Linked DNA regions of Homo sapiens. The protein of the gene in region 1 purifies or fractionates together with the protein of each later gene. This does not show direct contact. Each region holds a gene or a part of one and is shown in the gene's direction. Other genes may lie near its edges. The genes, in order: COP1, TRIB3, CUL4A and ETV4.

The links.
Region 2: the proteins of COP1 (region 1) and TRIB3 purify together in Homo sapiens (affinity purification with mass spectrometry; 7 studies listed by BioGRID and IntAct, with this or other methods). This does not show direct contact.
Region 3: the proteins of COP1 (region 1) and CUL4A purify together in Homo sapiens (affinity purification with western blotting; 9 studies listed by BioGRID and IntAct, with this or other methods). This does not show direct contact.
Region 4: the proteins of COP1 (region 1) and ETV4 purify together in Homo sapiens (affinity purification with mass spectrometry; 5 studies listed by BioGRID and IntAct, with this or other methods). This does not show direct contact.

The regions. Positions count from the first base shown.
Region 1 is NC_000001.11:176,043,072-176,050,582, reverse strand, and holds part of COP1 (E3 ubiquitin-protein ligase COP1), read left to right. Parts: intron 1-4,258; coding exon 4,259-4,402; intron 4,403-6,764; coding exon 6,765-6,873; intron 6,874-7,315; coding exon 7,316-7,397; intron 7,398-7,511. UniProt on the Homo sapiens protein: E3 ubiquitin-protein ligase that mediates ubiquitination and subsequent proteasomal degradation of target proteins.
Region 2 is NC_000020.11:376,272-384,111, forward strand, and holds the start of TRIB3 (tribbles homolog 3), read left to right. Parts: upstream 1-4,488; 5' UTR 4,489-4,898; intron 4,899-5,023; exon of another isoform or gene 5,024-5,229; intron 5,230-6,161; exon of another isoform or gene 6,162-6,274; coding exon of another isoform or gene 6,275-6,355; intron 6,356-7,840. UniProt on the Homo sapiens protein: Inactive protein kinase which acts as a regulator of the integrated stress response (ISR), a process for adaptation to various stress. Inhibits the transcriptional activity of DDIT3/CHOP and is involved in DDIT3/CHOP-dependent cell death during ER stress.
Region 3 is NC_000013.11:113,254,453-113,261,963, forward strand, and holds part of CUL4A (cullin-4A), read left to right. Parts: intron 1-240; coding exon 241-346; intron 347-500; coding exon 501-673; intron 674-6,154; coding exon 6,155-6,307; intron 6,308-7,511. UniProt on the Homo sapiens protein: Core component of multiple cullin-RING-based E3 ubiquitin-protein ligase complexes which mediate the ubiquitination of target proteins. As a scaffold protein may contribute to catalysis through positioning of the substrate and the ubiquitin-conjugating enzyme.
Region 4 is NC_000017.11:43,536,245-43,543,755, reverse strand, and holds part of ETV4 (ETS translocation variant 4), read left to right. Parts: intron 1-6,981; exon of another isoform or gene 6,982-7,276; coding exon 7,277-7,330; coding exon of another isoform or gene 7,331-7,344; intron 7,345-7,511.

The DNA.
Region 1 (7,511 bases):
TTTTGTTTCCTTAAAGTTTTAGTTACCTGCTCTTGAGGCACACTATCATGGTAATGAATGAGAATGAGACCTTTGACAACTGCTCTTACTTTATATTTTAATTTGATATAAGTTGGGCTCTAGCATCCAGGGACACTAATCCACCATGTTTGTTAATACTTATAATTGCAAAAAGATATGAGAGACATTGGAAACACTGACAAAATTCACTGCTTGGGCTTATTGACGGCTTTCATTGCTTTGTGCCGCATTGTACTGGCAGTATGCATTAATCAGCTGTCCTGTGCAGTTTCTTGCCTTGCTGCTTAATCACTTGACTAATGACATTTTTGACAAAGAATACAGCTAGTTTCCTACAGCTGAATTACGTATTTCAGCTGTTGATATAAATCACTCTTTTAACAGTTGAAATGTTTCAAAATGTGAAAGAAAAATGCAATTTATGTCCCCAGAAACACGATTTTTCAAAAGTATACTTGTATGTTGAAATTAAAAACAAATTCTGTGAAATTGAATTTGTCATGCAGTAAATTTTTATAAATCTCTTGTTTTAATTATTACTGCTGACAGTGGATGGCAGAAATGAACGTTGTATAGCAGTAGTAAGACTTAAAGTTTGTTTTTGAATTTAATTGCATAAGCAACATTTCAGTTAATTAGTTTACCTTTTATTTAGTCTCAGCCTAACTAGTCACTGTTTAACTTTTGAAGTACTTTTGCTTGGGTTATCAGATTTCATAATAAAAGTAGTTGAAATATCATACTGTTAATATAAGAGGTCATCTGTTTTGTATTAGTTCTAGAAAGCTTTCTGCACCTGAAAATTACAGTGTTCATTTCAGTTAGTTCATGATCTGTTTTTAGAATCTCATTATGTTCATGTTTGAGAATATATATGATTAAATATGTCAGAGATAGGGAGCAAATGTTTCAGTATCTAGAAGTCCTTAAATCCTGAGTCTTAGTGATGTGGAAGTTCTTCCACTAAAAAAGGTGGTTTGAGGGGGGGGACCTGTTTGTCTTTCTTTCCCTTTTAATCAAAATTTTCTAGAAATAATATTATTCTTTATACTTTTTGATTAATATTTCTATTAAAATCTATTTTTACAGTATAAAAGGATCTTGTTACCCCCAAAATATTTTTAAAAACATACTCTACAGGTTCTTGATACCTTAATATATTAAAAACAAAACATAACCAAAATGTAAGAAAATAATAGCAATGAAATCAAAACAAAAAGTTAACTTTTTAATATGAGAGTTAAGAGTTAGCTAATGTCACTAAATAATAACATGTAGAAAAAAGAGAGAGAGCTGTCTTGAATAACAGGATACCAGCAGAAGAAATAATAGACATATTTAGGTCATCATCTTAATTCTTTTTTTTTTTTTTTTTTTTTTTTTGAGACGGAGTCTCGCTCTGTTGCCCAGGCCGGACTGCGGACTGCAATGGCGCAATCTCGGCTCACTGCAAGCTCCGCTTCCTGGGTTCACGCCATTCTCCTGCCTCAGCCTCCCGAGTAGCTGGGACTACAGGCGCCCGCCACCGCGCCTGGCTAATTTTTTGTATTTTCAGTAGAGACGGGGTTTCACCTTGTTAGCCAGGATGGTCTCGATCTCCTGACCTCATGATCCACCCGCCTCGGCCTCCCAAAGTGCTGGGATTACAGGCGTGAGCCACCGCGCCCGGCCCTTAATTCTTTTGACAGCATTTTTACTTATGTGTCAGTTTTCTCCCTGTAATGTATTTAAGCTATTATTTTGATAGGTTAGTGTTTAAACGTATTATATATGTTAAAACTAATAGTTTAGTAATGGCATACTTTTACTGGCACAACATTGGAATGGTGTTGATTAGCTATGTATATGAGTAGGCGGAGAAAAAGTATTTAGTGATAACTAGTTCACTTGAAGTCTCAGCTATACCAAAACCTCCTAAATTAAAAACAGGATTTCAGTTCTGATAATAACTCTGTCCTTTACCAGATAAAGTAGTATTTCTCCTTCAGTGACATGAGACTATGGGTATAAATTGAGTTGGGATAGATGAATAGTTGTCATCATTATAGTTATGGTGCATTAAAATCCACATGGCAGCAAGTAGTAGCTGAGGCAGCAGTTCAATTGAGGTTGTACAAATAAATCTACTGCATTGCTATAGTATCATACTTTACTGGAGGGAACATTTGCTGAATTGTGCCCTAGTCAGTGACACTTAACTGAATAAATTTTTTTTTTAAATTGGCTGGGCACCATGTCTGACGCCTGAAATCTGTAATCCCAGCACTTTGGGAGGCTGAGGTGGGAGGATTGCTTGAGCCCTGGAGTTCAAGACCAGCCCAGGCGACATAGTGAGACCCCATCTCTGTAAAAAAAAAAAAAAAAAAGAATTTTAATTCTTTAAAAAATTATATAAAATTAAGGAAGCATTTAAAGCTGTAAAGAAAAGTGGGCGTATCAATGTGTGTCTTTAAGGGAAATAGTCCTTGTTGTTGTTGTAGTTGTTTTTTAAGACAGGGTCTTGCTGTGTCACCCAGGCTGGAGTGCAGTGGCACAGTCATGGCTTACTGCAGCTTCAAATTCCTGGGTTCAAGCAGTCCTCCCACCTCAGCCTCCCAAGTCTCTGGAGACAAGAACCCATCACTATGCCTCACTAATTGTTTCATTTTTTTGTAGCGATCGGGTCTCACTATGTTGCCAGGCTGGTCTCAAACTCCTGGACTCAAGGGATCCTCCCACCTCGGTCTCTCAGAGTGCTGGGATTGCAGGCATGAGCCACCGAACCCAGCCTGAAATATTCTTAATGTGTCTTTTTCTTACTTACCATCATCAGTTCAGCAAGCTTCTTAATAAATCATTAATCATTAACTGTTCTGTGAATGGATATTAAGAAAATGGATGTTTGTATTTTTGTATGTAGGTGTTTGTATTTTGTGCATTAAATGAATGCTTAATAGATACAGAGCACTAGCTAGGCATTTTGAGAGAAGAAACACACATACATAGATATTGAAGATACATTCATACACATAGATTTTAAACCTTTAAACCTTTAGCCTTTACACTTTGAGTTTTACATTAAGAGCTTTGATCTGTAATAAAGCATAGTAATTATTAGCACCAGCTCTGAAACCAGACTACCTTGTGTTTGAATCCCACCTCAGCCACTTACAGATTGACTAACTTTGGGCAATTTACCTCACCTCTAATCTTCATTTTCTCATCTGTAAAATGTAGATAATAATAATACATATATCACAGGTTGTTATGAGGACTAAATGAGGTAATACATGCAAAATGTTTTAGTAAGTGAATGATTAATGAATATTAGGTATTATTGTGTAATTAATTGTAGATCAGTGAGAATTCTTATCGCTAAACCTCTAGAAAAGATGCTTAAATCATATTGAGGAATAATGTATGTGATGATTCATTTCAACTTTTACTACCTTTGGGCTAATTAGATTTCCAGCTGGTTATGTAACAACTGTGTTTAGGCTGCAAGTTCTGTAAAAGCGAGTATGATCTTGTACTTGCTTTCAAATAGCTTGTTTTGGAGCTTATATAAAAATGATCAGCAAGAGAGGAGTGAATAACGCTGAAGGAAAGGAGATTATTTATTTATTTATTTATTTAACCTCTTTTGTGATATGAGGAATGTGTATTGGGGTTTTATAATTCAGAGAGATATTTGGGGAGGGGGATTAGGTATGGATTTGGGGAAAAGTAATGATAATTCAGTGGTTCTGTTATATGTATTCCATCCCCTTGTCATCACCCAATTGCTTCAGTAATTCAAATTATATACTAATTTATTTATTAAAAATAAAATTTAATATTGTGAAATTCTACTACCTCCACAAAATGGCAGGGAAATAAGTAGAATGTATGGAAAAATTAGTTGATAATTGTCTTTTGGCATACTTTTAGTATATCAAATGATTCACGCCATTAAATCTTTCTCAGTAAGCTGTAATATGGTTATTAGAACTGAATGAAAAGCATGTCAGGTGTCTTGGAACAAAAGTACACCTGTGCACAATTGTGTAGATATACAAATGTATATATTAAAAGTTTTATATTACACAAATCTCAACAACTTTTAATTTGATATGTGTTGATTACTTAATCTGGATATGAGGTCTAGTACAATTTGAAGGTATTTAAAGTAGATCTTTTATCCTTGTAGACCGAATTACTTTAGAAATAGAAAATAGCAAATTCTGAAATGTTGTCATTACATACTTTTTCCCCTTAGTATTGAATTTGACCGGGATTGTGACTATTTTGCGATTGCTGGAGTTACAAAGAAGATTAAAGTCTATGAATATGACACTGTCATCCAGGATGCAGTGGATATTCATTACCCTGAGAATGAAATGACCTGCAATTCGAAAATCAGGTATTTACATTATTTTCTTGACATGATGCAGTATAGATGTAACAATTTGCATATGTAATTATCATGAGATTATTTTACCTTTGCATGACACTTTTTACTCATGGTGAACACTATTATTGTACTATGTATACAGAGTATATATTATTACTTATATCATCTTTCTTACAGATATTGGTTGCTTTTTTCTTGTGAGGTTAGCCTTTTTTTTTTTTCTGGTTGCCAAATTAAAGTTCTTCTTTCACTTAATCAAATAAAGGTCTTTGTTGGACATGGTTGTTGGAGACTCTATGGAGTACTGAATGAGGATTAATGTAGCTTATGAATAGTATTTGAACATCAGGAATTTTTCCCCTAGCCTGCACATATCTCAACATATTAGAATTGTTTCTAGTTTTAAGAATTTTTTTTACAAGAATATTCTGCTTTTCACTGAAGGAATGGTGTTTATGTTTTCTGTATTAGAGATTATACTTTATAAGCAGTGCTTTTCAAACCTAAAATACTCTTAAACACTAACAGTATGTTAAGACTCTACTCCTGATCTGCTCCCCAAAAAATCTCAGAAGAATTCTAGAATCTGCTTTTTTTTTTTTTTTTTTCCTTCTAAACAAGCTTCCCAAGCTGTTCTCATGAGCACTGGCTTTAAAAGAGAATTATATGAGGAAATCATCTAATAATAACTTTGTATAGAACTTTGAACATTTTCAAAATAGCCATCCTTGAACCTTTTTTATCTTTAATGAATGGCATACATAGTATGTTTGTTACAGTCTTTGTATAATTTATTTGTTATAACTTTCTTTTTTCTAGTTCATTTATAAAAATACTATATCGATAATTGGTGAGCTTCCCCATTCATTTGTGGCACTCATCATTGAGAATCTGTTATAGTTTATGTCCTAAGTGAAGAGGATATAACATGAATTAGATACAAGTTTATTGAATTCTTATATATCAGGCATTATCCTAAGTGCTTGGTCTTTAGCAGACCTATGAAATAGTTACCATTATTGCTCCATTTTATACAAAGAAAGCTGAGCACAGGAAGGTAAATAACCTGCCTAAGATTATACACCTGCTATATAGAGGAGCCAGGATTCAGACTGAAGTAGTTTGGTTCTAGAGTCTGTGCCCTTAAACATTTCCTGCTCCTTATTTATAAAATGGAGGTCACAATAGTAATACTTATTTAATAGGATTGTACTTTTAAAAAATCCCCATAATGCACTCAGAACAACACTTGGCCCATGGCAAGTACTCATAATATATTACATAATGAAAACGTGGATTAGAAAGTTTAAATGTGCTGTCTACCTGTTCTGTATTTGTATGTGTAAAAATGTGCAATACTTCCTGATATATTGGAATAAATGGTGAAAGCGCTCAAGGCTGAAAGCTGTGGGCCTGGGGCTGAAAGGATCAATACCTAAGGATGCCTAAAATAGATTCGGAGCACATCTACTGTGAAAGTGTACTAAATTAGCCAGAGCCACAGCTAATAAGTAACAGATCTGGAATTTGAACTCAAGTCTACCTAAATTCAAAATGTGTCTCTTAATTGTTCCAGATAATTTCTACCAGAAATTCTAATTAAGTATATTTAAAAATGCAAATAAACTCTTCCAGTCTCTGGAATTTAGCATCAATGCAACTAGTAGAAAGCAAAAGACCTTGTGTTCATGTCTTAGAAGTTACCTACATTAACTGCCTTCTAAGTAACTTCTTCCATAATATGCATTCCCTTTACTATATGCGTGATGCAGATATGTATCTCAGCAGAAGTTTTTAGATGTTGTAGACTTCTGGAGTACTTGAGAATAGCCAAAACCATAAATGATAAAAGTTTGATTCTAACTTTTAGATGCTTTTAATTGGAATTTTAGTCATAAGTTATAATTAGTCAAGTCAAGACTTTTGGGATGTAAATACAGAAACCCAATTCACTGTAGTTTATTTGGCTTATATGATTTGGCACAACTGGATCCAGGGGGTTAAACAGTCTCATCAGGTCTGTCATTCTGCCATGGTATGCCTTGAGCCCTCTGGATAGTATCACCTTCACTGATAGACATCGTTTCCTCATGTATCAAAGATGGCCAGTGATAGCTCTAGGCTCACATCCATCTTAACAGCTAGTGATCACAGTAAAAGGTGGTTAGGGTCATTACTTGTTAATTTTTATTTTTAAAATTTCAAAATTATTGGTATGTCTTTTCCCAGGTATGTTGTGGGCAGAATAATGATTGTGAACTGATAGAGACCATTTTAAAATAGTGCAAATCTTTCTGAACACATTAAAATTATTTTTATCCCATTGTTATTTATTTTTATGTAAAGTAACTTTTAACTGTATTTCTTTCAGCTGTATCAGTTGGAGTAGTTACCATAAGAACCTGTTAGCTAGCAGTGATTATGAAGGCACTGTTATTTTATGGGATGGATTCACAGGACAGAGGTCAAAGGTCTATCAGGTAAATAAGGGTACTAGTTACATGTTATATGAATCATACATTTGGTTTGTTAAAACTTTTAGAACTTCATGTGCCTTATAATTACAGATTTGAAGTCACTATTTAGTATTTTTTATACCTGTGTAACACCTATGCAATACCAAATGCTTTTTTTTCCTGTCTCCCACTTTTGGTACCATATGCTTTTCCAAAGCATTTCTTCAGACTTCGGTCTTTATGGAATGTATCAGGTAAATTTCTAAAAGCAATAATTTTGGTAAATGTATAAAAAGTTTTGGAAGTACTTTATATCAACATCTTATTTGCTTTTCATTTGTTTTCTAGCCTGTTGTCTTTCCCTCTCCCCGTAACAATAAATTGATATCAGGTTTTTTTTTTTCTTGCTTTATTCATTTTGAGATCTGTATTCTATCTGAGGCTACTGTCTTCTTTCTGCTTCCAGGAGCATGAGAAGAGGTGTTGGAGTGTTGACTTTAATTTGATGGATCCTAAACTCTTGGCTTCAGGTTCTGATGATGCAAAAGGTACTGTTTGAATCTCTTTCTCAGCACCTCCTTCTCCCTGGCCCTCTTAACTGTAATTCCTTTCATCGGCAGAAATACAAATATTTACTCAAACTCATGTCAGTCCTTTGTGAT
Region 2 (7,840 bases), on another chromosome or scaffold:
TCATTTAATTCTCATGCAAACCAACGAGGTAGGAACTATTGTTATCCCCATTTTACAGATGGGGAAACTGAAGTACAAAGAGCTGAAGTAACTTTTCCAAAATAGATGTGGTTTTGAACCCAAGAAATGTGATACAACTATGACATGAGGCAGTCCCAATGCATTGAATCCTTATGACTGCAATGCAAGGGAGGTATAATTAACTGCATTTTATAGATGCAGAAACTGAGGCTTGAGGCTATTTGGTGTTTCTGGTGTAGATCTAGGAGCCAAACTCCAGCCTACCTAGACTCTTTGCCTCTGCTGTACCCCTGGACCATGTGTTAGGAATTCTTGGTACAGGGTGGTAGTGCTCAATATGGTAGTGGTTTTAGTCTGTTTTCTGTTGCTTATAACAGAATGTCTGAAACTGAACAATTTTGAAAGAAAAGGAATTTATTCCTTACAGCTATGGAGGATAGGAAGTCCAAGATTGAGGGGGCACTTCTGGTGAGGGCCTTATTCCTGGTCTCTGAAGTGTCTGGAGGTGGCACAGGGTATAGCGTGGAGAGGGGACTGGGCATGCTGACATGCTATGCTTTGGTCTCTCTTCCTCTTCTTATAAAGCCACCAGTTCTCCTCCTGTGAAAACCCACAAATCCATTAATCCATGAGTGGGTTAGTCCATTCATAAGGGCAGAGGCTTCATGATCCAATCACTTCTTAAAAGTCCCAACCGCTCAGTACTGCCACATTGGGGGATTAAGTTTCCAGCACATGACATTTGGGGGACACATTTAAACCATAGCAGTAGCCATTTGCCACATGTGGTTATTGAGCACTTCAAGTATGGCTAATGTGGCTAGTGTGACTGAGAATTTTTTATTTTATTGAATATTTTAATTTTTTTTTTTTTTTTTGAGATGGAGTCTCACTCTGTCGCCCAGGTCAGAGTGCAGTGTCATGATCTCGGCTCACTGCAACCTCCGCCTCCCGGGGTCAAGTGATTCTCCTGCCTCAACATCCCGAGTAGCTGGGATTACAGGTGTGTGCCACCATGCCCGGCAAATTTTTGTATTTTTAGTAGAGACAGGGTTTCACTGTGTTAGCCAGGACGATCTTGATCTTCTGACCTCATGATCCACCCACCTCCGCCTCCCAAAGTGCTGGGATTACAGGCATGAGCCACTGCGCCCAGCCTCACATTATATTTCTATTGGAACACAGAATGGTCTAGAGAATTGGGATTTGACAAACCCAGCTGTGACAAGTCACCAAAATTTGGGGGCCATACCCAGGGTGCCGTTCCTGTCACGATACCCATAGGTCCATGTGGAGGCTGCAGGGATACAAAGCTCGTGAAATATCCCAGGATGGCATGGGCACTGGAGTCAGCTGCCCCAAGTTCAAATCTGAAATCAGTCTTTTTGTTTTTTTTTTTTTTTTGAGATGCAGTTTCACTCTTGTTGCCCAAGCTGGAATGCAGTGGCGCAATTGGCTCACTGCAACCTCCGCCTCCTGGGTTCAAGCGATTCTCCTGTCTCAGCCTCCCGAGTAGCTGGGATTACAGGTACATGCCATCACGCCCGGCTAAATTTTTGTATTCTTAGCAGAAACCGGGTTTCACCACCTTAGCCAGGCTGGTCTCCATCTCCTGACTTCAGGTGATCCGCCTGCCTCAGCCTCCCAAAGTGTTGGGATTACAGGCGTGAGCCACCGCGCCCAGCCTGAAATCAGTCTTATACGACCAGCTGGGTGGTCTTGGGTAGGTCCCTTACCTTAACTCTTCTTGTCTGCAGAATGGAGGTGACTTACTGTTTTTCTCTGTCTCCCTTTCACATCTTTGCACTCTTCACCCCTTCTCTTCCCTCAGCTTTTAGTTTAAACATCACCTTTCTGATAAGCCCTGCTGAAAATGGCCACCCTCAGTCATGACGGAGAACAAGTCTTTCCTATTTTATTCAAGAAAATGCATGATGCAATCTATTTTAAATGATCATGGTTTTAATTTTATTTTCCTGATAATGGTCTATCTCTCCACTGATTTATAAGATTTGTAAGAGCAGGGGTGGATCATTCTGGTCACTGCTGAGTCCCCAGCATTTAGAACAGGGGCTGACACAGCACAAAACAACGTTAGTTGGGAATGTACAAGCAAACCCAGCACACCTTCAGAGGGGTGCTCAGGAAACAGCCCTCCCACCTTTCTTCACCCCTCACAGCTGTGGGATCTTCCTAACCATTTCGGTGTCCCAGGATAGAGGATGAGTTTATTCACCCCTCCCCAGCAGGGGAGTTGCCAGGATTAAATGAGATCCCAGAATGCCCTGGTATACCCTGAAGGCTCTGGGACACAGGTGAGCTGGTCCCCAGGGATTTGGAAACAGGAAAACAAATATGACTCCACCCTGCCTCCCATCCAGCCTCTGCCTAGAGGAGTTATTTTATTTTATTTTACTTTTTTTTTTTTTTTGAGACGGAGTCTTGCTCTGTCGCCCAGGCTGGAGTGCAATGGCGCAATCTCAGCTCATTGCAACTCCTGCCTCCTGGGTTCAAGCGATTCTCCTGCCTCAGCCTCCCGAGTAGCTGGGACTACAGGTGTGTTTTTTGTATTTTTAGTAATTTTTTGTACTTTTAGTAGAAACGGGTTTCACCGTGTTAGCCAGGATGGTCTTGATCTCCCGACCTCGTGATCCACCTGCCTCAGCCTCCCAAAGTGCTGGGATTACAGGCATAAGCCACCACGCCCAGCCTCTAGAGGAGTTATTTTACTTACTTACTTATTTATTTATTACACAGGATCTCACTCTGTCACCCAACCTGGAGTGCAGTGGCACAATCACGTTTCACTGTAACCTGAACTCCTGGGCTCAAGTGATCCTCCTACCTCAGCTTCCTAAGTAGCTGGGACCACAAGCTCGTACCACCATGCCCGCTATCTTTTTCTCTTTGTAAAGACAGGGTCTTACTATGTCATCCAGGCTGTTCTCAAACTCCTGGCCTCAAGCAATCCTCCCGTCTTGGCCTCCCAAAGTGCTAGGATTACAGACATGAGCCAGCTCACCCAGCTGAGGAGTTATTTTTTGACACTGGTGAATTCAGATCAAAAGGGATTTCTAAGAAAGGTGCTGGACCCAGGCCGGGCGCGGTGGCTCATGCCTGTAATCTCAGCACTTTGGGAGGCCGAGGCAGGTGGATTATCTGAGGTCAGGAGTTCGAGACCAGCCTGACCAACATGGAGAAACCCTGTCTCTACTAAAAATACAAAATTAGCCAGGCATAGTAGCGCATGCCTGTAATCCCAGCTACTTGGGAGGCTGAGGCAGGAGAATCGCTTGAACCCGGGAGGTGGAGGTTGCAGTGAGCCGAGATCGTGCCATCGCACTCAATCCTGGGCAACGAGTGAAACTCTGCCTCAAAAAAAGAAAAAAAAAGAAAGGTGCTGGACGCCTAGGACGCAGAGGGGTGTTTCACCCCAAATCAAGTAGCACCAAGCCCTCCCAGGCCTTGGGTGCAAGCATATTAAAGGCCTCTTTCCCTCTCTGTCTCCATTGTTTACACTCCACTGAGCATCCGCAATGTGCCACACACTGTTCTAAGCGTCTTACACATATTAAATTATTTAATCCTCACAACAACTTTATGAAGTGAGCGCAATTATGAGCCCATTTTATGGAGCAGGAAGTTGAGGCAGGGTTTTAGGTAGCTTTTCTGGGGTAGCACTGTGGGTTGGAGCGGAGGTGGAGTGCACTCTTAGGCCAGCTGGCTCTAGGGGCTCTTCACCACTAGGCCGCACTGCCTCTAGCAAAGGGACGCGGGGAAGCTCAGCAGACCTTAGGCCTCCCAAGGGCGCCACGGTGGTTCCTTTGAGCCCAGAGTCAGCTCTTAAGTCCATAGGCCTTCCTGAAGCTTCTGAACCACTTGCCCATAGCTGGGCCTCAGGCTGGCTCTCAGTAGAATGTGGAGAATGGAGATTCCCGCATGTCCACTTCTCCTAAAGGTTTTATAAGGCAGTGCTGGGAATGTGCTTTATAAAAAAGGGGAAGCACCCCGACAACAGTCACTGTTTGCTCTTTTAAGCACCATCCTGAGAAGGAGGAATGTTCTTCCCATTTCATAGGTGGGGAAACCGAGGCTCAGAAGAGCAAATTTTTGGCCGGGCGCGGTGGCTCACGCCTGTAATCCCAGCACTTTGGGAGGCCGAGGCGGGTGGATCACGAGGTCAGGAGATCGAGACCATCCTGGCTAACAAGGTGAAACCCCGTCTCTACTAAAAATACAAAAAATTAGCCGGGCGTGGTGCGGGCGCCTGTAGTCCCAGCTACTCGGGAGGCTGAGGCAGGAGAATGGCGTGAACCCGGGAGGCGGAGCTTGCAGTGAGCCGAGATCGCGCCACCGCCCTCCAGCCTGGGCGACAGAGCAAGACTCTGTCTCAAAAAAAAAAAAAAAAAGAGCAAATTTTTTTTCCAAGGTGATAGGGAGAGTCCGTGGCTGATGTCTGCACTGACCAGACGCCCCTAGGGGGCCAGCGAGGGCGGGTCCCAGGTGCAGCGGATGCAGAGGAGAGAGGCCCGGGCGCGGCGCGGGGGATGGTGCGATCCCGGGCCCGAGGGCATCAGACGGCGGCTGATTAGCTCCGGTTTGCATCACCCGGACCGGGGGATTAGCTCCGGTTTGCATCACCCGGACCGGGGGATTAGCTCCGGTTTGCATCACCCGGACCGGGGGCCGGGCGCGCACGAGACTCGCAGCGGAAGTGGAGGCGGCTCCGCGCGCGTCCGCTGCTAGGACCCGGGCAGGGCTGGAGCTGGGCTGGGATCCCGAGCTCGGCAGCAGCGCAGCGGGCCGGCCCACCTGCTGGTGCCCTGGAGGCTCTGAGCCCCGGCGGCGCCCGGGCCCACGCGGAACGACGGGGCGAGGTACTCGGCGGGGTGCGGCCTGCGGACTCGCCCGGAGGCCGGGGGGCGGGAGGGGGCGGCCGGGGAAGGGGGCGCCGGAAGCCTCTGGGCGTCTGCGTGTTGCCGCGTGTTACACGCACGCACGCCCCTTACACACCTTTTCACAGACCCCGCCGTCGGGGCGCGGCCAGGTCAGATCCCTTTTGATCCGGGCCTGGGCTGAGTGCTCCCCCCGGGCTTCAGGTGACGCGGCCCCGCGGAGCGTGGGGTCGCCCGAGTTGGGCTGGGGAAGCCAGGGACGGAGGTGTCCGGCCGTCACCCCTAGAGGAGGGCGTGCGGGGGTCTGTTTTGCGTGAGTGCGGGATAGGGGAGTCGTGTGGTGCGGTGAGGGGCTTGTGGGGGGCACTGGAGGACTCTGGGGGTGGCGGGGGATCCGAGGGGGTCCTCGTGAACCCGCAGGGGAGAGTCCTGGGTGAGGGTGGGTCCCGAGCACCTGTGTCTCAGGAGATGGTGAGAGCTGTCTGGAGGGCTGGGCACTTGGTGGCAGGGGTTGGCGGTGCAGGGGACACCGCCGGGACAGGGCTGGGGTGCCCTGGAGCGGGGGAGCCGAGGGAGTGGGAGCGGGGGCGCAGCGCGCGATCTCTGGCCCGGCAGGGCCGCTGGTTCTCCCCAGTGCGCGGCTCCGGGTTTGCAGGTGGACGGTGCGCGCGTGTCTGCGGTGTGTGCTGTGCCTGCAGACCGGGGAGGGCGGGGGACGACAGCCACCTCCTTCCCTCTGCCTCACCCCCCTCCTGTCCCAGGGCCGCGCTTCAATTTCCGCTGAAACTTCTGACTCGGACACCCGCCGCCTTTCGCTTGGGCTCCCACGGGAGGGGCCTGGCTGCGGGGGGCGGGGCGGGGTGGGGGTGCGGCCTTGCTCGGGTAGACCATGGGTGTGACAGCTGGGAGGGCTGTGTGTGTGTGTGTGTGTGTGTGTGTGCGTGCGCGCGCGCGCTTGCGCTTGATGTAACCCGCCCTCATTTCCCTGGGTCCCGAGTGTGGCAGGGAACAGCAAGAGGTAGATATTAGGGGCTGCTTTCATTCCACATCACAGATTCTATTCTGCAGTGTGGTCTGCAAAATGCCTTGCCCAAGATGTATAGACTCAGTTACCGCATCTGTCCCCATCTGGGTGGAGCTTATCCCAGGCCCCAACAGGCTCTGAGGGATGGCCGGGGCCAAGGCAGCCTGGACTACTGATGTGGCACAGGCCAGAGGGACTCCAGGCAGTCTCCTGCTGCACAGGGCACAAAGCATGTGCACAGCCAGGTATCATCCTGCGTGACTCAGAACAGCCTTGAGATGTAAGGAGTGTCATCCCAGCCTCGAACCTGGGGAGCTTTCTAAGACTCCCAAGGATGGTACTTATGCATCTTGCTGTGAAGAATAACAGGATGAGTGCTAATAATGACCATTTCCTGACACCTACCTGGCAACAGGTCCATAAGCTCTACATGCTTCATTTGTGTTTTCATTTCATCATCACGAAAAACCTGTAAGCTTTGCATCCTGTTCCCACTTTACAGGAACTGAGGCTCAGAAAGCTTGAGGAACTTGACCAGGGGTACCCCCCAGCTAGAAAGGGTTTGAGACAGGATTAGAACCCAGGAATATCTGACTACAGCCACTCCTTACTGCATTCTTACCAAGCCAAAGTCATGACCTTTCACTCATGTGGGGAGGCCTTCCCTTCCAAGGCAGCTCTTCCATTTGGGAGCAGCGTACTTGGAGAGGTGGGCCTCTGTCTGGTAACTGACTCATGTTGCCTTGTTAATCCTGCCTTGAACTGTTGGGAAGGTCTTTAACCAGGCTGAGGTCTCTCGCACCAATGCCCATACCTGGGCATGCACCTCCTTGGAATGGAGTTTAAGTGGGTGGGCAGATGGGTTCTAGAGAGAACCCGTCTGCCCTGACCATGCCCTACTGCCCTCTCCTTCAGCCACCACACACACAGTCACACAGCTGCGTGAATGGTGGCTTTCCTTTCACTTAACAGTTCACTCTGGAGATCCTTCCAATTACCCTATAAAGAGCATCCTCAACCTTTTAAATGGCTGCACATTGTTCCGTTGTGTGGATGAAGTATAATTTATGTAACCAGCCCTGTAATTATAGACAGCCAATTATTTCTGTCAAAAGGGCTGCAGGAATAACTGTGTATTTGCATGCTTACACACACACACCTCTACAGAATAAATTCTTAGCAATGGGATTAATTGCTGAATCAAAGCTCACACGCTTTTCATCGTTGTTTTTGTTTTGTTTTGTTTTGCTTTGTTTTGAGACAGTCTCACTTTGTTGCACAGGCTAGAGTTCCTGACCATGGCTCACTGAAGCCTTTACCTTCTGGGCTCAAGTGATTCCCCTACTTCAACCTCCTGCATGGCTGGGACTACAGCTGTGTGCCATCATGACCAGATAATTTTTTTTTTCTTAGGGACAGGGTCTCGCTACGTTGCCTAGGCTGGTCTTGAACTCCTGGGCTCAAGTGATCTTCCTGCTTCAGCCTCCCAAAGTACTGGGATTACAGGCATGAAGCACTGCACCCAGCCTGTTTTTCATTTTGATATTGTCAAAATGCACTCCTCAGAGGTGGTACCTTTTATCCTCCCACTAGCACTGTCTTCATTGTTAGTGGCTGCACTGCCACTATTCCACAGTATAAACCCACTTTTCATGACACTGCCAAGACATAAGGGTCTGAAATACTTAACAGTTTTCTTCCACAGTCCCCAAAATACAGGCTTCTCCCCCAGCTCAGGACATGAAGCCATCATCCCTCCTCATTGCAGGAGCCAAAGGCTGGACCTCACCTCGATTCCACCCTCTCCTTCACCCCTCACATCCAATCCATCCAGTCCATCCAGTCTGCCACTGAGTCCTCTTGATCTTCCTCCTATGAGCCCTTAACTTCGCGTCTCCAT
Region 3 (7,511 bases), on another chromosome or scaffold:
CCGGGCTTGGTAGGCACCAGTAGTCCCAGCTACTCGGGAGGCTGAGGCAGGAGAATGGCATGATTCCGGGAGGTGGGGCTTGCAGTGAGCTGAGATTGTGCCACTGCACTCCAGCCTGGGTGACAGAGCGAGACTCCTTCTCAAAAAAAAAAAAGTTTGAGAGCAAAAAGAAGCTTCTTTTAATTTTTCAAAGATTGTACATGCACAGCTTCAGAGGTGTGATGAGGCCTTCTCTTCCAGGGGAAGAAGGAATTCCAGGTGTCCCTCTTCCAGACACTGGTGCTCCTCATGTTCAACGAGGGAGATGGCTTCAGCTTTGAGGAGATAAAAATGGCCACGGGGATAGGTACGAAAACTGCAGAGTGCATAGCTCCATGAGTTGTTCTTAAAGCATGTATTTGTTTTAAGATAAGACATAGACTTGGTAGCATGATTGGTTTACTGTTGTTGAGTCTCATTCGTTTAACGCCAGCCTTTGCCTGCATTTGCTTCCCATTCAGAGGATAGTGAATTGCGCAGAACGCTGCAGTCCCTGGCCTGTGGCAAAGCACGTGTGCTGATTAAAAGTCCCAAAGGAAAGGAAGTGGAAGATGGAGACAAGTTCATTTTTAATGGAGAGTTCAAGCACAAGTTGTTTAGAATAAAGATCAATCAAATTCAGATGAAGGAAACTGTATGTATAAACTTTCTCTTTTTACTTATAGGGGGTTTAGCAGGGAATCATTTGTTTTTGTAGTAATGTTTTTGGCTGTTAGAGGCCTGAAGCACATTTCTACAATAATCCAATTTCACTATGTAATGTTTATAAGAGTACTCATTTTCCTGTCGCTTTCATTAACTTCACATTCTCAGTAGGAAAGAAAATCAGAAAAAAAGCCACTTAATGTTATTCCTATTCACAAAAAAGTTGTGTGCTAAGCCAGAACTCCCCATGGTCATAGGGTTTCGAAAATTATCCACACTTTCTATGGTAATAGAATCTGATATGGTTCACTCTTGGTGTTGTACATTCTGTGGGTCTGGGTAAATGTATAATGTTATGTATCCACCATTATAGGATCATACAGGACAGTTTCATTGCCCTAAAAATTCTCTTATGTTCTGTCGCTGTATCCCTGTCTCCCTCCGAGCCCCTGGCAACCCCTGACCCTGTTACTGTCACCATAGTTTTGCCCTTTCCTGAATGCCGTACAGTTGGAGTCATAGTGTATATAGCCTTTTCAGATTGGCTTCTTTATTTATTAGAACGTATTTGAGGTTCACCGTGTCTTTTCATGACTGGGTAACTCTGCTTTTTGCACTGAAGGATTCTCCGTTGTCTGGATGCATCACAACTTATCCCTTCACCTACTGAAGGACATCTGGTTGTTTCCAAGTTTTGGTGATGATGACTAAAGCTGCTATAAACATTTCTGTGCAGGTTTTTATGTGGACTTAAGTTTTTAACTCCTTTGAGGGTGCACCTTTTATAGTGGGCAAAAGTGAGAAGGTCTATCAGTTCTTTCTCCCGAAGGTAACCACTACTGCCCTTTTTGTTTGTGGTCACAGCCTTTTTCTGTGGTGTGAGTGTATGTAAACTTTTTTTTTAGTGGGATCACTAAGCCAGGCACAGTGACATGCACCCATAGTCTCAGCTACTCGGGAGGGTCGCTTGATCCCGGGAGTTTGAGGCCAGCCTGAGCAATGCAGTGAGACCCCAAACTCTACAAAAGAAAAAACACCTGGGATCACTGTACATATGGCACCTGTCAGGGCCTTCCTGTAGCCAGTTTTCGTTGCTGATCGCAGTCTTCTCCTGGCCAGGACTTGTTGCAGGAGCACAGTGCCGGTTGTGTAGACCCACCAGGGCTGGCAGTGCCCTCGGCCACAGGCACTAACATTCCTCCACTGCCCCTCCTGAAAATAAGATTACGTTCAACACCCTGGCACAGACATTTCTGTGCACTTGTTAGATTGTTTCTTTAGTGTGATTCTTGCTCTGGAGCTGCTGGGTAAAATAATGTGTACTTGTCTTAGTTTGCTCTTTTCCAAGTTGAAGTCTGGCAGATTTCACCAGAGCACAGTGTCTGCCCCCACCTCCACCTGTCCTTCGCTCACCCTGTTCTGAGCAGCCCAAAGATAGTTTGTTGCAGTTTTCATTTTGATTTCTGATTCTTTACAGCATCTTTCTACCACTCAGTAGTTTATACAAATTATATAATCTTTCTAATGCTCAGTTTCTCATATTTAAAATAGACATACTACTACCTCAAGTTGTGAGAATTAAATGAATCGTTTAGAAAGCTCTTTGCCACACACCTGTAAGCACTTCATACATGTTGATGCTGCTCTTTTTATGCTTAGCCATTTGTATTTTTCTTTTTCTAATTGCTTTTCAAGTCATATGCATTCATTATAATGTTTTTTCTCTTACTGATTAGTAGGTTTTCTTTATATATTAAGGATATTAATGCTTTGTCCCTTTTTTTTTTTCGTTTTTTTTTTTTTTTTTTTTTTTGCATTTCACTCTGTCGTCCAGGCTGGAGTGCAGTGGTACAATCTCGCTCACTGCAACCTCCGTCCTCCGGGTTCAAGCGATTCTCCTGTCTCAGCCTCTCGAGTAGCTGGGACTACAGGCATGTGCCACCACACTCAACTAAGTTTTCTATTTTTAGTAGAGACGGGGTTTCACCATGTTGGCCAGGCTGGTCTCAAACTCCTGACCTCAGGTGAGTCACCCATCTCGGCCTCCCAAAATGCTGAGATTACAGGCGTGAGCCACCATGCCCAGCCTGCTTTGTCATTTTTGACAGATAATTTTGTTGTTTTTATTGGTTTTTTTTTCACATAACAGTTTTTAAGTTCTCAAATATAGTCTCCTTTTCTTTTATGGTTTCTGACTTAACGTGTAATGCTGTATTAGGCCATTCTTGTATTACTATAAGGAAATACCTGAAACTGGGTAATTTATAAAGAAGAGAAGTTTAATTGGCTCACGGTTCTGCAGGCTGTACAGGAAGCATGGTGCCAGCATCACCTCAGCTTCTGACGAGGCCTCAGGAAGTTTCCAGTCATGGTGGAAGGTGCAAGGGGAGCAGGTGTCTCACGTGGCAAAAGCATGAGCAAGAACAGGGAGGGAGGTGCCCCACATGTTTAAACGACCAGATCTCATCACCAAGGGGAGGGCCCAAGCCATTCATGAGGGACCTGCCCCCACCCACCCGGTCCCATCTCCAACACTGGAGACCACATTTCAGCATGAGATTTTGAGGGGACACATATTCAAAACCATATCATTGGCCTAAGAGAGAAATTCCCTTAACCAGAGTTTTAAAAAACATTTATACTATGTTATTTTTCTAGAAGTTTTTACATTTAAATCTTTCTTTTCATGTTGCAGAAATTATTTTAGTATCTGAAAACAGTCTAACTGCCCCCATCCTTTCCAAAACCAAATTTAAAATATCATCCTTGAACAAGTTATTTGAATTATCACCTTATTATGTATCAAATTCATATAGGTCAGTTTCTCAATTCTCTTCTATAAATTCTGTGTCTATTTCATAGCCAGCCATTTTTTTTGTTTTGTTTTGTTTTGTTTTTTGAGACAGTGTCGCCCAGGCTGGAGTGCAGTGGTGTGATCATAGCTCACTGCAGCCTCAACCTCTTGGGCTCAAGCGATCCTCCCACCTCAGCCCCAGGCATATGCCACCACGCCCAGCTAAATTTTTGTATTTTTTGTAGAGATGAGGCCTTGCCATGTTACCCAGGCTGGTCTTGAACTCCTGGGCTCAAGCAGTCTTCCTACCTTGACCCCCCAAAGTGCTGGGATTACAGCCGTGAGCCACCGTGCCCGGCACCAGGTTCTTTTAATTAATGTAGCTATTCCTATAACTTTATTCTTCCAATGAACTTGACAATAATTGTATCACGCCTTTGCTCCCCCAAATAAGAACATTGACATTTTTAATCCATATTGCATTAATTTACAGAGCTTTTATCTTTATCATATTAAATCTTGTGATTCATACATATGTGTATATATGTAAATACATACAAATCTTTTTCTCAGAGCTTTCTAGTTTTCTTCTGTAAGTCTTGCATATTTCTTGCTAGTCATAAATTTTCATTCATTCAACAAATACTTATTGAGCATCTGTGGTGGCCCAGGTCCTCTGTGAAGCACTGAGAATTCATCCATTAACAATAAAGAATAAGTCCTTGTTTCTAGGAGTGTTCAGTCTTTTCCAGCAGAGAGGTAGCAGAGGATCACACACATTGACTAACTTGTAAGAGTGGAGGAAAATGTTAGGATAGAGAAGTGCAGGAGAGTCTAATTAAATACTGTCGTCAGCCAACGCTTTCCTGAAGAAGTGACTAGCTTTGCTCAGGAACTGAAAGAAGGCCTCTGGCTGCAGCATCGTTGCCAAAAGGGGAAGCTGAGCCAGACAGGCCTGATCAGGGAGCCACAGCTGGACCCTCTGAAGATGGCTCAGATCCATGAAGCATTTGGAAAACCACTAGAGTTTTAAGCAAGACAGGCTAATGAAATGCTGATATCTTATAAAGGGGACCTTTTTTCTTTACATTTCTGACGGTTTTTATCAGAATGTATGTATTAATGCTATTTGTCTTTGTATATTTATTTTATTTCCAGCCACTTTACAAAACTCTTTAGCTTTGAAAGTTTTTCTGTTGATTTTCTTGGATTTTCCAGCTCATCTACAAATAATGATCGTTTTGTCTGCACCTTTTCAATATACCTCTTTAGTCTGTTCCTGTATTGCATAGTTAGAACCTCTAAAGTAATGTTTTTAAGGAATAGCAGTGCAGCTGAGCTTCCTAATTTTATCTCTAGTTCAGAGGATGTTAACTTTTTGGGGGTCATGGATCCTGTTGAAAATGTGATGAAAGCTTGGAGTCTCTCCCATCCTGAAGCATACTTGCCTCATATGTATGCACAGACCTTCCCCCAGCCCTCATTTCAACTGCAGATCCCCATCAGGTTCCTGTTGGACTAAGGTTAAGTTGTCTCTAGTATTTGCTGTTTGTTTCTGATAACCATGTTTTATCATGTTCAGATGCTTTTTTATTCATCCTTGTATGCTAATGTTTGTTTTAAATCAAAAAATCAATTTTATCATGCCTTTTCAGCATCTATCAAGATGGTCATGTAATCTAACCTTTCAACTGCTACAGTGCTCTCACTTATATTCACAGATTTCCTAATGTTGATCAACACTTAACATTTCTGGAATATATCCTGATGGTCATTATGTTTTGTTTACTGTGCTGCTAGTTTTAATCTACATCACACATAGAGTTGTTGCAGCTTTCTTATAAGGAAAATAACTTTTAAAAATATTTTTTAAGTTTTGGTTTTGGAGTTTTGCTATTCTGGGAAGGTACCTTTTACTACAACAAGTAAACATGCATAATAAAGTAGGATTCATCCAATGTCTGACCTTTCTTTGCATCAAAAGAACATTTCCGGCCAGGCACGGTGGCTCACGCCTGTAATCCCAGCACTTTGGGAGGCCGAGCCAGGTGGATCACGAGGTCAGGAGATCGAGACCAGCCTGGCTAACATGGTGAAACCCTGTCTCTACTAAAAATACAAAAATGAGCCGGGCATGGTGGGGGGGCACCGTAGTCCCAGCTACTTGAGAGGCTGAGACAGGAGAATGGCGTGAACCCGGGGGGCGGAGCTTGTAGTGAGCCGAGATCGCGCCACTGCACTCCAGCCTGGGTGACAGAGTGAGACTCCGTCTCAAAAAAAAAAAAAAAACCATTTCCCATCAAATTCGGTAACATCAGGTCATTAATATTGAAATATAGGCCAGGTGTGGTAGCTCACACCTGTAATCCCAGCACTTTGGGAGGCCAAGGTGGGCGGATCATCTGAGGTCAGGAGTTCAAAACCAGCCTGGCCAACATAGTGAAACCCTGCCTGTACAAAAATACAAAAAGTAGCCGGGCATGACAGCAGGTGCCTGTGATCCCAGCTACTCGGGAGGCTGAGGCAAGAGAATCGCTTGATCCTGGGAGGCGGAGGTTGCAGTGAGCCGAGATCACACCATTGCACTCTAGCCCAGGCAACTGAGTGAGACTCCATCGCAAAAAATAAAAAGAAAATACAGTTTTACACTTAACTTTTTTTTTCTTTTTTATACAGGTTGAGGAACAGGTTAGCACCACTGAGAGAGTGTTTCAGGATAGACAATATCAGATTGATGCTGCTATCGTCAGAATAATGAAGATGAGAAAGACTCTTGGTCATAATCTTCTAGTTTCTGAATTATATAATCAGCTGAAATTTCCAGTAAAGGTAAATGTAACATTAGCATAATTAAATTTGTAGTATTTGCTAAACAATTGACAAAGCATGTTTAATTCTATGTTCAGTCATATCATTTGACCTGCATTATTCATGGTGCTTTGTGTATACACTGAATGTAGAAAAACTGGCAAATGTGAAGCTCTTTATTCCAGGTGTTGCTCATTGCCACTGCAGAAATGATAGAGCCCTAAAACTCTCCTTCCCAGGGATGGTGCGCGCTTGTTCATATTTTCAGGAAGGGAAGAGGTAGATGGGACATGGAAAGCTGAACACTTTTCTCATAGTAGTAGCGGTCAAGGTTACATCACAAGATTTTAAGGAAATGATAACAATAACTAACTTACTCAGCGTTTACAGCCTACACCGCGTTTTCCACCACGGTAATAGTCTACTGTTGCTGTTGCTTATGAAAGTCAGCCCAGGCCTGTCAACCCGCGTTGTTTTCAGAACTGAGATTTACTGTCCTGCCACGTGTGGGATGCAGGATAAGCCGGGAAAGTATTATGAAACGTTTTTTACATGTATTTATCAACCCAGGAAATACTGAACTCTGATGACGCCTGGCCTCTCAGGGACAGGACCGGCCACACGTGCTTTGGAGGGAAAGTCCCCAGATTCCATGTTGTGCAGTTTGAGCCTCCCATTCCATCAAGGGAATAAAGTTGAGATGCACTAAATAGTCGAACACTTAAGAGTCTGGTGGAAGTGCCACTGTCCATCAGCCCACATTTGCCCCCTTCCCTGCAGAGGTGAGGTGCCGTCCTCAGGGCCCTGGGAAGCTCCAAAAGCACCATCAGGTTCACTGCCCCTTCCTCCCACCAGCTGGAGCAAGTCTCCTGTTGCCACTGCAAACAATCAGGCCCAGCGCGAAGCAGAGGTGAGCAAGAGTGGAGTGTGGCAGACCAGGGCACCTGCTCTGCTCTCGGGTAGAGAGTGGCAGACCAGGGCGCCCACTCTGCTCTCAGGGGTAGAGTGTGGCAGACCAGGGCGCCCGCTCTGCTCTCGGGTAGTTGGGTTTTTTTTTTCTTTGAGATGGAGTCTTGCTGTCCCCCAGGATGGAGTGCAGTGGCACGATCTCGGCTCACTGTAACCTCTGCCTCTCGGGTTCAAGCAGTTCTCCTGCCTCAGCCTCCTGAGTAGCTGGGCTTACAGGCACGCGCCACCACACCCAGCTAATTTTTGTATTTTTAGT
Region 4 (7,511 bases), on another chromosome or scaffold:
GATCTGGAGGTTCTGAGGGTATTGTGTGCATCATCCCCGACCCTGCAAGTCCTGCATGCCCAGCTCCAATTTACAGGCAGAGCTTTGCCCCGTCTCCCCATCCTTCTTCTGAGGTTCTGGAGCTGGGCTAGAGCTGAAGAATGCAGAGGTGTCAGTTTCCGTGGGCTCTCAAAGACTTCCTTTCCCAGTGCCTGATTTCTCTCTGGCTCACCGGGCTTCATTCCTTGCCTGTCAGCTGAGAGTCCCCACAGTGGGCAGCTCCTAGGGCTGTGAGCTAGGGGTGGGCTGAGGTTGGCATTTTGGCAGCAGCTGGTCCATCTGTGCCTGGGTTTGAGATGGGAGGGGGAGGAAAATGCTCTCATCTCTCTACCTTGGAAGTCCCACCCCTTGGCCAGGGGTCTGGAGAGGGTACAAATGTCTGTCTGTGTCAGTGTCGGTGTGACAGCAAGTGTGTGTGTGAGAGAGAGAGAGAGAGAGAGTGTGTGTGTGTTAGTTACATGCTGCTGCCCTGTACATTTAAATCCAGTGGGTGGGGAGGTGGGGTGGGGATTGCAAGGCGGAGGTGAGGGGGGTGGGCGCTGGGATCTCCTTGGTTCCCTCTCCTTCCTTCTGAGGGAGCAGCTCAGGTTCCCAGCTGGTGATGGATGGCCAGGTCTGAGGGGGGGATGCTGAGGCCGATCGCTCCTTCTCACTTTCTCTGCGGAGACAGATGCAGCTGCCGGGGCCCTGTCCCCCTGCACCATCCCAACACCACCCCAGCCTCCTCTCCTGTCTCTTCCCACCAGGTCAGTGACCCCGGCAACCCATGGGGAGCTTTGGGGTGGCAGGGAGGGACTAGCTTCTTTGGAAACTTGCCAGTGGTGGGACGCATTAGGAGGAAAGGGGACCAGAGCCCAACCTCCCTTTCTCAGTTTGGTTTTTTCCAAAGCCCCAATTTGAAGAGAAGCAGCAGGGGGGTCCTGGTAGTGTGGGTGGGTCTGTGAAGACAGCATTTGGAGGAGGCACAGGTTGGAGCCGGGCAGATACAGGAAGATTCCAGTGTGGTTGCAGGTTCAGTGTCCTGCGTCCGGGCGTTGAAGGGTGAGTGTGAGTGCGGCTTTATGGAGGCAGCTCACATATCCTTGGGGTTGGGTTTTTGTACACAGGGGTGAATGATGTGAGGCTAGGAGGGCGTGTCTGATTTGGGGGTGCCTGGGATCTGTTGAGATGTTGGGGAAAGAATCAGGCTGCTACAGGGAGACCCAGGCTCAGGCAGGCTGAGCCCAATATGTGTCTGGCTATGGTAAAAGATATGCTGGTTTTTTGTCCAAGGTTCCTTTCCAGGCTTGTCAGGAGCCCTGAATCCTTGGGGAAAATGACTTTGTTGTCTATTTGGTAGTAAGGGCCATTGACTCTAGGCCATGACCCCTTTGTGTGAGGCTCAGGTCTGTGGATTCCCAGAAGCCCTATGGATAGGTTGCTGGGATCCTTGATCCCTCTGATACTGTGTGTAAAATTGCTGGAAGTGCACCATACATAAAGGTGTATGGATTTTTTTAGGAAGAGAATGACCCATAGCTTTTATCAGATTCTCAAAGGGATCGATCGATCTGCGCTCCCCTTTTCACAGGAATCACTGCTCCCCAACCCTCCTCCAAGGGCTCCAGTCCCTTTGCCCTTTGGCTGTCCCAATCATATTTGTAGGTCAAAAAAAGACCCCATGTGTGGAGGGCATGCATGGAGGGCACATTTCACCCTGTGCTGTCTTGCTGCTGCAAGAGTGAAGTAAAAGGAATTAGGGTGTGTGCATCCCTGAATATGCGTCCGAGTGCATGTACACTGGTGCCTCGGCATGTCTGTGGGGAGGGATGAGGTTAATCTCCTCCCTAATCTTTCCCAGCTACAATGCCTCCTTCTCCATCTTTCTGTCTCTTCCCCTTCCTGAAGACTCTTGGGGACAAATATGTCCCCTCCACAACTAGTGAACTGGTTCCTTCCAGTACAGAGGCTGCCAGGGTGGGGGCAGGGTAAGGGACAGCGGTGACACAATGGAGCAGAAGCTCTGGAGAATGCCTCTACCCCCTTCACCCTATGACTGGATCCTGGGAAGAGGGTGACCGAGCATATGTAGTGTGGGTGGCTAACCTATGGTGAGCTTCAGTGTATCTCTGTTTTAACCTCTCAGTTCTTCCAGAATCCAGCTTGGGAGACCCCCCAAGCCCCTCCTCTTTTTTTACTAACCCCCCTTTTTGAAAGGAGAGTCCCTAAAATTCTTTCTCTCTCTCTGGGCATTATGCTGTCTTGGCACTTTTCCCACCCCCTCCTTAATCATCTGCCTCGTCCCCAGACAGATAAACTCCATCTTAGTACCGGGATGGAGCTGGGGACAGACCCTGGCACACTGGCTTGGCAGCCAAGACTCAGCCAAGTTAACAAATAAATAAAGAGAGTGGTGTACACTTAAGACGAAACATGGTAATTAAAAATTCTCCTGCTCTCCAGGAACGCGAGGCTCAGTGTTCCTGTTTCTATCCTGTTGACAGTCTCTGGATGACTGAGGGCCCTGGCCTACCCCTTTGGGAGAAGGCCAGTGTTTGGGGGAGGGGCTGAGCTAGGACAGATTTCTCCTGGCTCTGGGAAGAGGATGGCACCACCTCTTTTGGGGTGTGGTCTGTGTGCTGGAGGAAGCCTCCTCCTGGATTCCGGGCCTGGAGGGGTCCCTGGTTAAACTGTCAGGCCCGAGGCAGGAAGAAAGGCAAGATGATGCTGAGGGTTCTCTGCTCTCCAGCACCAGTGACGCCAGCAAGAGATACCCCCAGCCCATTACCTCAATGGAAAGTAGCAGTTAATGAGGCCCCAGGGGTGGGGCCGGAATGCGTCAGCCACCCCTGAGTTCTGCACCACCCTTTCCCTTGGGACCCTTCTTGCCTAGTAGGAGGGAGGGAAATGTTGGTCACTCTGCTCCCATCACCCCAGCTTCCTGCCACCTTGGGGGATGTTGCCTCTGAATGGACCAGAGGGCACAGTGGGGAGCCTGGCTTTGCATCCCTGGGCAGGTGGACAGATTTGGCCTCTTACCCTCTATCCAAATGTGCCTATTTTTAAGGTTGTGGTGGCTGAAGTGAAAGGATTACCTGAGCCCAGGAGTTAGAGGCTGCAGTGAGCTCTGATTGTGCCACTGCACTCAAGCCTGACACAGGAGACTTCCTTATAATAGATTTTAAAATGCAGATGCCTGGGCCCCACCCCAGTCCTATGGAATGGGACTCTCCGGAGGAGGGGACTGGGAATCGTGTTTTTATTTTATTTTTATTATTGTTATTTGAGACAGGGTCTCACTCTGTTGCCCAGGCTGGAGTGCATTGGTGCTATCTTGGCTCACTGCAACCTCCACCTCCTGGGTTCAAGCGATTCTCCTGTCTCAGCCTCCAGAGTAGCTGGGATTACAGGCGAGAACCACCATGCCTGGCTAATTTTTGTATTTTTAGTAGAGATGGGGTTTCGCCACATTGGCCAGGCTGGTGTAGAATTCCAGACCTCAGATCGTCTGCCTGCCTCAGCCTCCCAAAGTGCTGGGATTACAGGCGTGAGCCACCACACCTGGCTGTAATCGTGTTTTTAACAACGTCCTGGTGACTCTTGAATCAGGCCAGTTTGGGAATGGTTGTCTTTTTGCCGTGTTTGTGCTCCTGAAAAGATGTGTGCTGGCTGTGTGTTTCTGTTTGTTCTTGCCAGCGGATTTCATGTCTCATTGATGTCTTTGGTCACTTCAGACCAAAGTATTATTATGTTGACTTGTCCTAAGTTCTCGTTTAGCTGCTGGTGGCTTGTGATTGTTAAACTCCCTCTCCCTAATGCTTCTGTCAAGAAATCAACTATCTATTAATATAAGCCTATGTTTATAAACACTTGGCACCTCTGATATTTAAAGCAAATTGTTGAAGAATATTCTTGCCAAGCAACATATCACAACCTAAAATATCCCCTGTGAGATGTGCTTTCCTGGAGAGGACCTGCCTCTAGTGTTGCCTTGTGTGTGGAGAGGGGGAGCCTGCAGGGAAGGGCTAGGATGGTCAGGATCTCTTCAGTGCATGCCCTCAGGCCCACAGTGCTGACTTCTGCCAGCCTGAGGACAAACGATTATTGCATGTTTATTCATGTAGTCAAGAAATAACAGCACTGAGCGTCTACTCTAACCCTGTGCTGGGTGCTGGGGCATCAGATGACAAAAAAGATAAAGCTCTTGCCCTCACAGAGCTTAACTTCCTGGTGGAGGAGATAGGTAGATAACAAACAGGTAAACATAAATTAATATATTCAGGTGGCAATATGTGCCAGGGAGAAAACAAAACATAGATGCAATAGAGAGCCAGGAGGAACCACTTTGGTTTAGGGGTGGTCAGAGAAGGCCTCTCCAGAGATGTCAAAGTGAGCTGAGACTCTGATGGTCAGGAAAAAAAGAAAAAGGCAAGAAAGCATCTGGGGAAGAAGGAACAAGCTCAGCAGCTTTGAGGGCTAGAAAGGAGACCAGAGTGCTGCAGATTCACAGGCAAGGAGAGGCAGGTCAGAGAGGTAGGCAAGGCCAAGTCATGCAGAGCCTTGGAGGCCAAGGGCAAGCGTTTGGATTTCATGCTTTAAATAACAGAGAGAAATGATTTTATTTCTGTTGTAAAAAGATCACTGTGACACCTAGGTGGAGAGCAAGGGACCATAGGAGGTAAGAATGAAAATAGGGTATCCTGGTAAGAGGCCGTGGGTGAAATCCAAGTAAGAAATGATGGAGCCTTAGCCTAGAGAGAAGCAAAAGAGATGGGATATGTATTTGTATAGGCCGGGGGTGTGGAGGTTTTTTCTAGCCATCTCATACCCCTCACCAGCCATTTTGACCTCTCTGGGCATTTTATCAGTTTCCCCATTGTCCAATCTGAGAGCAGTCTCCAGGGAAGGAGAGAGCAGTCTCCAGGGAAGGAGAGTCCAGCCTCCTCGGGCTACAGGTTCCACTGCATCACCCTAGAACCACTCTCTTCCTGGAATAATATCAGGAAGTTCTTCTTGGTGTCTACATTTCCTGCTGTGATCCATTTATTTTTGAGAGAGGGGCAAAAGTGGGCCAAGACTCTGGGATCAAGGGAGATTCTTAGCTGTATAACCACCTGAGAAGCCCCGCTCTGGGGAGGCCAGAATAAGAACTAGAAATCAGAGTTTGATGTTCAGGTTAGAAGCCATGGATGAGCTGCTGCTGTATTTCAGTTTTCCTGCCTATTCCCCAACCCAGCTCCACCCATCCTGGCATCCTGGGAGAGCTCTTCGGATCACCAACCTTGGGAATCCCTCCCCTCCTTAGCTGCACATTAAGGGGATGAGGCACCTATGTACTCAGCCAGTGTCCTTTGCCTTCTGCAGTGGTCCCAGTCACCAGCCTCCTGCTCTCCCACTGTCATCCTCCTTTTTTATTTTATTTATTTATTTTTGAGATGGAGTCTTGCTCTGTCGCCAGGCTGGAGTGCAGTGGTGTGATCTCAGCTCACTGCAACCTCCACCTCCCGGGTTCAAGTTATTCTCCTGTCTCAGCCTCCGGAATAGTTGGGATTACAGGCGTGCCACCACGTCCAGCTAATTTTTTTTTTTTTTTTTTTGAAATGGAGTCTTGCTCTGTCACCCAGGCTGGAGTGCAGTGGCCTGATCTTGGCTCACTACAAGCTCCGCCTCCCAGGTTCACGCCATTCTCTTGCCTCAGGCATACTCCTGCCTCAGGATTAGCTGGGACTACAGGCACCCGCCACCACACCCGGCTAATTTTTTTTGTATTTTTAGTAGAGACAGGGTTTCACTGTGTTAGCCAGGATGGTCCTGATCTCCTGACCTGGTGATCTGCCCGCCTCAGCCTCCCAAAGTGCTGGGATTACAGGCGTGAGCCACCGCGCCCGGCCTAATTTTTGTATTTTTAGTAGAGACAGGATTTCACCATGCTGGTCAGGCTGGTCTCAAACTCCTGACCTCGTGATCCGCCCACCACGGCCTCCCAAAGTGCTGGGATTACAGGCATGAGCCACCATGCCCGGCCTTTATTTTTCATTTTTTGGAACAGAGTCTCACTTTGTCACCCAGGCTGGAGTGCAGTGGCATGATCTCAGCTGACTGCAACCTCTGCCTCCTGGGTTCAAGCAATTCTCCTGCCTCAGCCTTCCGAGTAGCTGGGATTACAGGTGCCCACCGCCACGCCTGACTAATTTTTTAATTTTTTAGTAGAGATGGGAGTTTCACTTTGTTGGCCAGGCTGGTCTCAAACTCCTGATCTCAAGTGATCCTCCCACCTCAGCCTCCCAAAGTGCTGGGATTACAGGCATGAACCACTGCGCCCAGCCACCCCCCTATGTGATTTTATTTATTATTTAATTTTATTTTTCTTTTGAGATGGAGTTTCACTCTTGTTGCCCAGGCTGGAGTGCAGTGGTGCGATCTCAGCTCACTGCAACCTCTGCCTCCCAGGTTCAAGCGATTCTTCTGTCTCAGCTCCTGAGTAGCTGGGATTATAGGCTCCCGCCAACACGACCAGCTAAGTTTTGTACTTTTAGTAAAGATGGGGTTTCGTCATGTTGGCCAGGCTGGTCTCGAACTCCGGACCTCAGGTGATCCACCCGCCTTGACTTCCCAAAGTGCTGGGATTATAGGCGTGAGCCACCATGCCTGGCCGCCTCCTATGTGATTTTTAAATCCACAGGATCCCACTGCTTATAATGCCTGCCCATCCTAGATATGACTGTTGTGAGCTTTAAGGGAGTTTTGTAAACTCTGAGGGGCGAGGCTGTTTCACTTCAGAAAAATGGAGGAAATAAAGACAAAGCATCTAGAAGAAGAAAGACTGGAATCTGCTCAGACAGGTTCTGAGAACAGTCTTCCCTCCTGGGTCTTAGTGGAGCCCAGAGGTGGAAGACACTAGGACCTAGGGTGGAGCAGCCTTTAGTCTCAAGCAAGCTTGTCCAACCCGTGGGCCTGTGGGCCACTTTCAGCCCAGGGTAGCTTTGAATGCGGCCCAGGCCCAACATAAATTCCTTGTAAAATTTCTTAAAACATTATGAGATTTGTTTGTGATTTTAAGTTCATCAGCTATCGTTAGTGTTAGTGTATTTGTGTATTTTATGTGTGGCCCAAGACAATTCTTACAATGTGGACACCCCTGATCTAAAGGCTGTTGGTCCTTTCTTGGCTGTTGCTAATCTGCAGGGCTGTAATAATGGAGCCTCCCAGGGGACAACCAGGGCTCCGCCCCAAACTCACCTCTGACTTCTCTCTGCAGCTCAGGTACCAGACAGTGATGAGCAGTTTGTTCCTGATTTCCATTCAGAAAACCGTGAGTAGAGGTCCCTGGGGAGAGGGTATAGGGAGTGGAGGATGGCAGGAAGTGAGTCATAGGATAGAGAATCACAAGAGAGCAGCTTGTTCTCTCCTAAAACACAGTGGGGTTTGATCTTAAAGACCAAGGCAATAACTGGAATGAAAACCTTGGTTGAAATCTGGGGCTTGACATGTTC